Linked DNA regions of Homo sapiens: region 1 is linked to region 2. The links come from fine-mapping of genetic effects on gene expression. A gene starts in region 2. The other region holds a variant in brackets. All regions are shown on one strand. Distances are from middle to middle. Region 1 overlaps CBL (Cbl proto-oncogene). Region 2 holds the start of DRC12 (dynein regulatory complex subunit 12 homolog).

Evidence for each region.
Region 1: its variant is fine-mapped to the expression of DRC12 in esophagus mucosa (GTEx, PIP above 0.99).

Annotation. Positions count from the first base shown.
Region 1 is chr11:119,301,617-119,306,961 of GRCh38, forward strand. It overlaps CBL (Cbl proto-oncogene), which reads left to right. Exons shown (of 16, transcript NM_005188.4): 16 at 1-5,345. Among named protein-coding and RNA genes, the nearest start is that of MIR6756, 8.7 kb to the right of the region's middle. RefSeq lists an enhancer at 4,872-5,345. The variant C/A (reference allele first, on the strand shown) is at 2,749.
Region 2 is chr11:119,193,436-119,198,806 of GRCh38, forward strand. It overlaps DRC12 (dynein regulatory complex subunit 12 homolog), which reads right to left and starts at 2,406. Exons shown (of 7, transcript NM_001145018.3): 1 at 2,364-2,406; 2 at 1,989-2,064; 3 at 1,488-1,559; 4 at 331-450. The coding sequence starts at 2,052.

The DNA of each region.
Region 1 (5,345 bases), 110 kb after region 2:
CCTGGCCTCAGAGCCATTTATATTCCCAGAGTAGGCAGTACAGGATCTCGTGTTGATTTGCTGTGGTTACCCAGTGTCTTCTCTACATGGCATAAAGCGGCAAAGCCCACCATTAGGTGAGGCGGTCCCGAGTTGAGGTAGAGTGGGGCAGAGGAAGATGGCAGTGAATATCAAACAGTAGACCGCCATCAACTTCTAACAGCCAGTACACACACTGTTTCATTTTGAGGTAACGTTCAGTTTTGCATTTTGTTTAAATATTGAAGGCCTAGACAAAGAACTAGAAAAAAAAAAGCAGTTTCCAGGCCCATCCATATTGTAATTTTTCTTTATCTGCAGATATTGCCTGTAGTCTAAAGATCTCTTTGGAAGACAAAGCATTGGCTATATATCTTTTGCCTTTTCCATGCATCTAAATCTTCTCTGGAGATTATCTCCCTACTGTGTAGGTTAAGGGCAGTCTCGACTTTTCCTTTTTTGAGTCCTGTGTGGCTCTTTGAATCAGCGTGAAACTGAGGCTCCAGCTCCCTGTGTTGTGTGTGTGTGCCATCCATGGGCTTGGGTGTCAGTTTGTCACAGGTATCTGCCAGCATTCAAGGTTTTGGATCATTTCATGAGGATCTTTCCTTTGACTGGGTGCTGTGAGGACACACCTGGGTCTGTGCCTGAGATTGCCAGGCAAGATTAAGGAAAGTTTTCATGTGGCTTTTGTTTTGAGGTTATTCTCAAAACCTTAATTTCTTATATTTTCTGTTGACTAAGGCACCAGTAACCCATTCTTCACCCTCCATTTGTATGGCAATTTAAAAGTCTTTGGCTTTGCTCTGAATTTAATTAAAACTGCCTTTTATGAACAGACTTCGAGTTTTGCCATTTTGGGCAAGCCCTTCCGCTTGTCCCTTCCTAGTGGCTAATAAAGTAAAAAAACCCACACTACTTTGTTCTCTTTTTCTCATATTCATTGGGCTGTTGTATTCAGCCAGTCTCATGCTTTCCCTGGGTCTTCACGGATTGCTTTCCAAGCTGCCTTGTTGCGGGGTTGCTGCAGAGCAGCAACTGGACCTTTCCAGCTGTCGCCATGTTCCTTCCACTAAAGTAGAGGGTTCTTAAAATGGAAAAACCTGTGGGCTCTTCATATACCTCCCTTTAGTTAAGTAATAGACCAGGCAGCTTCTCATCTCAGCATTTACCTGTTAATATTTTTGTGAATAGTGCTCTCTACCTGTGGGTGGCCGTTCTCTTCCACTTGCTCGTCTCCCCCCAGCCCCATTCTGCATAATCTACCATTCTTCTCCTCTCTTTCTCTTCTTATACAGACCCTCATTACTGGGGCCCAAGATGTGGGATACTACTGTTAGTATTATTTAACTATTTTGTAGATTTAAAAGATTTCTGGTTAAGGGAGGTGGGGGTCACTGTTCATCACTCTTAAAATATGTGTTTTCTCTATAGAAAAGTAAAATGTGTTTATGGTCCCAAACAGTCAACTCACAAATTTTTATAACAAAATTTCCTTGTAAAAACTAGGGACCATCTATATATTCCCTTTAAGATCTAGTTCTTTTTGTAGGTGTTCAGCAATGGTGATAAAGCAGAATATTCTCCTACCTCACGTCATTAAAGTCAGAAGATTATAGACCTTCTCAAACTATAAGTCCCTCTTCTTGCCGTTGGCCTTTCTGACTCTGGAATGACCACTGTTCATTGAAAAATAGTTTTCTGACTATTGGTCTGGCTCTAACAGTTTGTTTGTTCATCCAGCAAATGTTTATGAGTGATGACCATGTGCCAGAAATGTCAGGTATGTGTCCTTCCCTTGGCGCCACATAGTAGTTTACTAATGTTTGGGGGATTGTACTTGGACTGTCATAGCCTCTGCGTTTGACCTTAAAATAGCTCTTCCCAGTAAGATTGTGCAATTTTTATTCACAGCTCTTCCATGTAGACTTACCTTTCCTCATAGAGCTATCCTGGTTAATAACAGGCCAAGATTCTCCCATTATCCCCTGTTGTCTCCTGTAGCTTTGATAATGCCTGGGAGATTCCTTGGTGTAAGTGTCATGGATACCGACTGTTTTTATGTTGGAATTTGTTCCAACATAATTAGAATCTGTTTGGTGAGTTGAAAGGTAAGTTGGCTCAGAGTTGCACAGTAGGGCATTAAATGTTTAAGCAAAGCATCTGCCCACACTCCCCTTTCCAATCTAGTGCCTTCCTTGAACTTTTTCCTGAGCTGCTACGTCCCTAATCCCCCTTGTTGGGAGGATTTTCGTATCACCCTTATGGGACCTGTCACCATGTCCTGTACTATTTGGAATTGGTTTTCCAGTCTTTCAACAACCGTTGTGGCTAACTATGTTTTAGAAGGGCTGGAGGTGTGGGCCCTGTCTTCGGGTCTCAGGACCCAAAGATCCTTTAGTCAGTTGTTGGGTCTTCCAAGAGCCAGACATTAATACAGATTGAACTCCATCAGTCCCCTAATTGTCAGCCTTTACCTCCCTCCCAGAGCAAGGAGTTTAGGGATTCTAAAGCTTAGTGTCCACACATCATTCTACCAGACCTTAGAGCTTTAGAAGCTCAATCTAAAATACTGTAACTCAGCATAAACTATTACTATCACTCCTTTGAACTCAGTCTCCATGAGCAGTGTTTTGTTGGAAATACATAGAACGGCTTAATGCCTAGAGGGTGGTGGATAGTGAAGGACGGTCAAGGTTATATTTTTGACTGCTTAGGGATTCTTTGGAT[C/A]CAAGAAACAGAAATGTTCAAGCGGAATAAAGGAGGGAGTGGAGTTGTGGTAAGGATGCAGGGTATTTCGCAGAACCCAGGACGGGAAGTGCCTTTGGTTCTTGGGTGGAGCTGGAACTGCAGAGCTTTGCACCTAGTCCTTTCTCCCGCTTCACAGTCTGCTTATGGTATATGTGGCCCCCAAATAGGCACTCTAGTCCTCAAGTCTACACCACCTTCCAACTCTGGGGATCACCATGAACAAATTCTCAATTTCCCATACTTAATTTTTTTTTTTTTTGAGATGGAGTCTCGCTGTGTCGCCCAGGCTGGAGTGCAGTGGTGCAGTCTCAACTCACCACAACCTCTGCCTCCCAGGTTCAAGCAGTTCTCTGCCTCAACCTCCCGAGTAGCTGGGATTACAGGCGCCTGCCACCATGCCCAGCTAATGTTCATATTTTTAGTAGAGACAGGGTTTCACCGTCTTGGCTAGGCTGGTCTTGAACTCCTGACCCTCATGATCCACCCACCTCGGCCTCCCAAAGTGCTAAGATTACAGGCGTGAGCCACCGCGCCCGGCCCATACTTCGTATTCTTAAAAAAAACTACACTCAGCCCAGCACATTGATCAAGTATCTATCTCTGAGCAGTTGGCCTTGCCAGGGAGAGCAGAGATGTGGCAGGCTCCTTCAGCTGGAGACAGGGAGCTTCTCAGAGAAGTGAGCAGAGACTCCACAGACACCCTAAAAAGGCTTCTACTCAAGAAGTAAAGCCACTACTCCTGCCTTTTTGCTTAGTGGACAGGAAGGCACAGGAGTTTGTCTGGGACATCATAGAAATTCTTAGGTTTAACTTAATTCTGGTCATTGTCTTCTTTATTTCCTGTTTTTCTTCCCTTTGTCAGTCTTCGCATCCAAGATTTCTTCCCTCCCTCTTGTGGGCCAGCCTGTCCTGTTCCAGAGCTAGCCTGTTCCTGGGTAGCCTTCCTTAGCCTCCATTCAGCCTCAGGTCTTTTGCCTTCTTCCGTGTTTATTTAGAGAGCAGAATCTAATAACGGGTTCCACTGTAGCCACTATCCATGGACTTCTGGGTCCTCTTCAGGTTTGAGTGCTTGAAAATGTTCATTCTCTGGGCTTGTGGCCTGTCTCCTCCACTCTCCTCCTCACCCTCTCGCTCCTTCCTGTGTGAGGGCCGCTCTGCAGTAATGTTCTCAGGCAAGCCTTCCTAGGCACCTCAGAAACTACTTTGCCAGAGCCAGTAAGAATATATAATATTGGAGCAGTTGCCAGGATAGAAATTAAATATAGATTCCAGTTTAGGATAGAGTTTTTACCGAGAGCTCTTTAGACAGTATACCTGTGTCTTCTCTGGCAATTGCTTTCATTTTAGTCCTATATAAAAGCTTTCCTTTTCTGTTTTTTTTTAAAACTATGCTTTTGCTTGCCTAAATCTTTTGATCTTATATTTCTCTCATCTCAGAGCCTGTCCTGAGTTGTAAGGTATTTCATACTGCCTTACTTAAAAGTTTTTTAAACTACTAGAGTCATTTGATACACACAGAAGTTACCTAATAATCCAAAGATGTCCATCAAGGGAGGAAGGGTGGGTCATCAGACTTTGCCTTTGATGTTGTAGACTAGGCTCCTGAGTTAAGCAGCAGAGGGACAGCAGTGCCATGTGCCTTCACTGTGTCCCAGGAAATCTGGGTTGGTTCCAGTGGGAAATACCAGTATTTCTTGGTTCTGGAAAGTAGCAAAAGAGTAGGAGATGGGGAAATAGGGATGGGGAGAGCAAGCCCCGCATGTCCATGGCGAGTCAGGTGGGGAGCACGGGTGGAAGGGCCGGCTGTTGACAGACAGACTAAGCTGTGTGGTGCTCTTGCCGCCCCTTCCTGGGTACAGAGCTTGAGAAAAATGCAGCCGACCACTCCCTGTGTTTGTACAGAGCAAAGCCCAAAAGCCAACCTCAGATCTCCTGATTTGGCAGCTGAAGAAATCAGCAGAGTCCTGATTGCCTGATTCAGTCCCAAAAATGAATGTCAGGCCCCGCCCCCTCCCCACCAACATTGCCTCTCCTACATTCTCCTTCTGCCCCTAAATCAGACAGGAGGCCAGAGAGGAGTATTGCTCAATGCGTGCTATGTGCAACTCCTCAGGCCTTGTGCCACCTCCATGCTGAGCCCTGAAGCAGGGTGTCCTGGGTGCCTGTGTGTCAGCTCCCTCCTCTCTACCTACCTCTGACCTTCTTGTGGGTGAGGGTGGCCATGCTTATGGCCATCTTAAAACTGGAGAGGCAGAGAACTACTTATGAGTCTGTAGACCACGTGTTGTCTTCCATGGCCTGTTTCTCCTGCTGTCTGGGTGAGTGAGCCTGCAACGCAATGCCCATGAGAGTAAATGCCTCCTGACCTACCCTGCTCAGCACTGTTCTAGTGTCTTGGCCTTGAAAGAAAAGCCTGACTTCCTGCTGACACATGTGGTAGGGGCATGGCAGCTATGAGGCACCTCCTACGTCTGTTTTCTGGCTGTGGTGACTTGGGATTTTTAACCTTATATATCTTTTTCCTTTACTCAAAACAAAACAATTTTTAGCACACTGAAAAAAAAAAAAAGCCAAAT
Region 2 (5,371 bases):
TACCTCCCCCAGTCCAGCTTTGGATGGGGATGCTAGCCCTTCTCCCCGCCCATGGGCTGATTGAGATGATGGCTATGACTGCATGTGTATCCTACACAGCATCAAGCACATGGCACCAGGCATCCTGGAAGGCCCCTGCCTGGGATCCCAGGAACCTACCTGCCTTTGGTTCCTGCAGGATCCTTCCTGATTTGTACTGTTTGGGAAAGACCAAGACCAGGCCTGGCAGTCGGAAGCCCTCCTTGTTTCCCTTCCTTGCATCAACTGACCCTGTTGGTTGTCCTCCTCCAAGCCCCTGTCTCCTGCCCACCTGCTTAACCGACCACACACCTGCATATATGGCCTTCCCTTCACTTCGGGCCCCTTCCAGCTCAGCCTCCACCCCTTGCAGCCTCTGCCTCAGCTGGTCTTCGGAAGCCTTGGCTCGACGGGCTTCATCCCTCCGTAGAGCTGTGAGCAGTCCCAGAGCCGCCGTCAGGACTGGCTGGGTCCCACTAAATCAGCCCCCATGAACGTGATGGACTTTGCCCACCTCTAGAAATCTGGTGGTGGGGTGTCCAGCCTCTTACTCTCTCTCTGGGTTTTGTTGTTTTTGTTTTTTATCCCTAGAGTCTCACAGGCTCCTCATTATTAAGAAGTAAAAACTCCCTCTATGTTCTTTTCGGATAGCCTGGCATGGTGGCTCATGCCTGTAATCCCAATATTTTGGGAGGCTTAGGTGGGAGAATTGCTTGAGGCCAGGAGTTTGAGACCTGCCTGGGCAACAGAGTGAGACCTTGTCTCTATAAAATAAATAGGGCCAGGCGCGGTGGCTCACGCCTGTAATCCCAGCACTTCGGGAGGCCAAGGCTGGTGGGACACAAGGTCAAGAGTTCGAGACCAGCCTGGCCAACATGGTGAAAACCCGTCTCTACTAAGAATACAAAAATTAGCCAGGTGTGGTGGCCACGTGCCTGTAATCCCAGCTACTCGGGAGGCTGAGGCAGGAGAATCGCTTGAACCTGGGAGGCAGAGGTTGCAGTGAGCCGAGATCACACCACTGCACTCCAGCCTGGGCGACAGAGCACAAGACTCTGTCTCAAAAAAAAAAAAAAAAAAAAAAAAAAAAAATAAATAAATAAAGTAGCCAGGCATGGTGGTGTGCACCTGTAATACCAGCTACTCGGGAGGCTGAGGCGGGAAGATTGTTGCGGCCCAGGAGTTAGAGATTACAGTGGACTATGACCATACCACTGCACTCCAGCCCGGGCAATAGAGCAAAATTCTGTCAAAAAAACCAAAAAAAACAAAAAACAAACAAACAAAAAAAACACCTTCCTTTATCAACTCTCACTGCCCACCCTCTCTCATCATCTTTTTCCACTAGGGGATGGTTAGGGTCAACTTAACCCCCCACCATACCTCCAACTCTCCAATCCCCCAGGATACAGAAATGCCCCATTTCACTTCCCCTGTTGCCCACCCATGCCAGCTTCTACCCTCCTTACCCAAGTGGTCTCGGAGCAGCTCCTTCTCCAGCACCACCAGCCTGTGCCTGGACTCGGCCACCACATCTGCACCTGCGGTGGCAAGTGGCAGAGCCTCAGCTCTTCATGATCTCAGCATTCCTCACTCTGCTCACATCCTCACCCCACACCCTGCACTTTTGCCACAGCAGACCTGAGGACCACTAAATGAGGTATCCACAGTGGCAGAGTCTACTGAAGTCAGCACCGTGTCCTCACCGACCAGCACATAACAGATATGCAAAATACACATGACAAATATATTAGGAAGGCACAGAGCTAGATGGGGCTTAAAGGAGAGCGTGGGTGACCATTTCCCCACTTCCTCAGCTCCCTGGATCTGGCTGTGAGGACATGAAAGAGGTAGGTCAAGAGAGCTCCATCCTGTCCTGCAGAAGGCTGAATTCTCTCTGGAGGAGCTCTGCGTGGTCTTCATGGCAGAACATGGAGAAGCAGGGGGCACCTCCACCCACCATGACTCACCCCAGTTCTTTTTCTTCTTCTGTGCCCCAGATTTCTTCCCTTTTTCTTTGTTTTTAGGTGGCATCTCCTTGCTGTCCTGGGAGAAGGAGGGGACCTTATGTTTAGGTCTGGACACAGGGATGCTTTCCTGAGCTTTAGACTGAACCAGGAGACTCTCCTGAGTCCAAATTTGTCTCTCATATCCTTCAGAAAAGTCAGTTCACAGTCTCTTTGGAACCTCAGACAGGGTTGGGGTCAGTGGGGAGGATGGAGTTTTTTCTCTCAACCAGGCTGACTCTGTACAGAAGTCATTCCTTGCAACTCTCTTTTAGAGAAACGAAATCCCTGTACCTGCTCCCCTCCCTCTTCCCATCATCCTCAACCCTCACTTCCTACCTGTAGGATCCTCTCCTGCCAGCGTTGGGGCTCCCCGTGGAGTGACCCACTCGTGGGGAGTGGCAGAGAGAAGGCCCAACTAGCGAGGAGCCTGAGGCGGGGCCTGGGTCCTGGGAGCCAATCCTTGGTGGCAAATTTCTCTTGAGGGCAGGACTGAGGGCTGGAAGGTTGGGTTTCCAGAGGCTGTATGTTGTCCAGGCAACTGGGAAACATGGAGTTCACAGGAAGGTGGAATGGGCTAAATCAGCTCACAAAGTTTAAAATATCAAGGTCTCAAAGGGTCAGTTCTTTCCTTATCCCAAAATCCTAAGTATAGTTTGAAAAGAAAGGGCTTTGGAGGTCGATTAGTTATGATTCATTGCCATGTAGACATGGCCTGCAATTTGGAGACTTCCAAATTCAGATGTACACATCTGAGATAATATGTGGTGCTGATACAGAGGAAAAGGACTGACAGTAGCCATGTTGGACAACTGACATCCCGAGGTCCCACCAGCAAAATGACATTAGTAGGCTTAAAACTGAAGATCTAAGCTGGGGCGGTGGCTCGTGCCTATAATCCCAGCATTTTGAGAAGCTGAGGCAGGAGGATTACTTGAGGCCAGGAGTTCGAGACCAGCCTGGACAACACAGTGAGACCTCATTTCTACAAAAAAATTAAAAAATTAGCCTGGTGTGGTGGTGCACACCTGTAGTCTCAGCTACTTGGGAGGCTGAAGCAGGAGAATCACTTGAGCCTGGGAGGTTGAGGCAGCAGTGAGCTATGATTGCACCACTGCACTCCAGCCTGGATGACAGAGGGAGACCCTGTCTCAAACAAACAAAACTCCCAGACCACCGAAGATCCTCTTCAGTACACTGTAGAATGAGGGTAATAAGTGCAGGAATAGGTAGTCCAGGGAGTTTCCCACTTCAGAGAAATGAGACGCAGAGGAATAGTGGACCCATGGACTCTAGGGTACTGACCTAGAGGGATGCAAGTGTGGAGGAAAGAGCTCAGGTTAGAGACAAGACATGTGAGTTTGAGTCCCAACTGTGGATATGTAAACTGAGGCGAGCCATTTGACTTTGCTCAGCATCAGTTTCCTGATCTTTAATTGTTTGATTTTGCAGCTCTTGAAAAGCCTGTGTTTTAGCTGCGTGTTTACATGGCTATCTTCTCTCCTAGTGACTTAATCTATTGCTACATTTCCCCATTCCCTTGTGTGGTTGATTTTCAGACAGGTGTTGAGACATTGCTTTGTGAGGCTCCCTGTAGCATAGAGTTGGTTGGGGCTCCCTCTAGTGGACTTGTTTGACCTTCTCCTGAGTTTCCTACATTTTTGCTTTTAAATTATTTACTGGGCAACAGTGGGGGTGACTCCCTTTGGGGATACTTCTTAGCGTCCTGTTTGAGCCAGGAGTGGCTGGAAGAATTAACATTGGGGAGAGAGTATGATGGGTGGCCCTCCCTTGTCAGGCAGCCCTCACTTTCCCTCCAGCTCTGTGCTATCCTGGAGGCTTGCCATTTATCTGCCACTTGGATCTCTGGGCACCATACTGGTTAGAGTGAAAATAGCAAAAACTTCAGGACTTTTCTCCTTTTGGATTAGGGGACCTGCAGACCCTTTCTTTTCTTTAGGTTTCTTTTTTTTTTTCCCGTGTCTCTCTCTGTCACCTAGGCTGGAGTGCGGTGGCATGATCACGGCTCACTACAGCCTCAGTCTCCCTGGGCTCTGGTGATCTTCCCACCTCAACTTCCTGAGTAGCTGGGACTACAGGCGCATGCCACCACACCTGGCCAATTTTTGTATTTTTTGTAGAGATGGGGTTTTACCATGTTGTCCAGCATGGTCTCAAACTCCTGGCCTCAAGCGATCCACCTGCCTTGGCCTCCCAAGGTTCTTGGATTACAGGCGTGAGCCACTGCACCAGCCTATCTTTTTTTTTTTTTTTCTTCAGACAGAGTCTCGCTCTTGTTGCCCAGGCTGGAGTACAGTGACGTGATCTCGGCTCACTGCAACCTCCACCTCCCAGGTTCAAGCAATTCTCTGCCTCAGCCTCCCAAGTAGCTGGGAATACAGGTGCCCACCACCACGCCTGGCTAATTTTTGTATTTTTAGTAGAGATGGGGGTTCACCATCTTGGCCAGGCTGGTCTTGAACTCCTGACCTCGTGATCCACCCGCCTTAGCCTCCCAAAGTGCTGGGATTACAGGCGCGAGCCACTGTGCCCGGCCTTCTTTAGGTACTTCTCTTCATCTCTGTCACCCTCAATATTTTTGGTCCATTGCCTATTGTCAGGAGCAGATCTGTAGAAATAGCCACAAGAGGCTGGGCGCGGTGACTCACGTCTGTAATCCCAGCACTTTGGGAGGCTGAGGCAGGCAGATCATGAGGTCAGGAGTTCGAGACCAGCCTGGCCAACATTATTAAACCCTGTCTCTACTAAAAAATACAAAAATTAGCTGGGCATGGTGGCACGTGCCTATAATCCCAGCTACTGGGGAGGCTGAGGCAGCAGAATCGCTTGAACCCAGGAGGAGGAGGTTGCAGTAAACAGAGATTGCGCCACTGCACTTCAGCCTGGGCAGCAGAGCAAGACTCCATCTCAAAAAAAAAAAAAAAAGCCACAAGATCTGGAATTGAAAAGTCCTTCTTCTGGGTAGTGGGTAACTTTAGGCAGAGGCTGGTTCATGCTTGTCACCTTGGTGGCTGCACGGCACTTACATGAACTTCCGGGCATTTTACAGAGCAAAGAGAAGAGCCAGTCTTGACTTCCCAAGTGCTTCCAGCTCCTGTAACTCAGAGTCAACTAATCTTGTGGACATCTCCCAAATCTGGAGGATATTTTTCTTCTAATCTTTTATTTATTTATTTTTGAAGCCAGTGGAATTTAGTAGTGGGCGCCTGTATACCAACTTTAGTGACTATAAACCAAAAATAAAATTCTAAGCCTGCCAGCCATCTGAGTGGACCCCTCCTCTAGGCCAAGGGCTTTCCAAAGTGAACCTGAAGAACTAGTTCAGG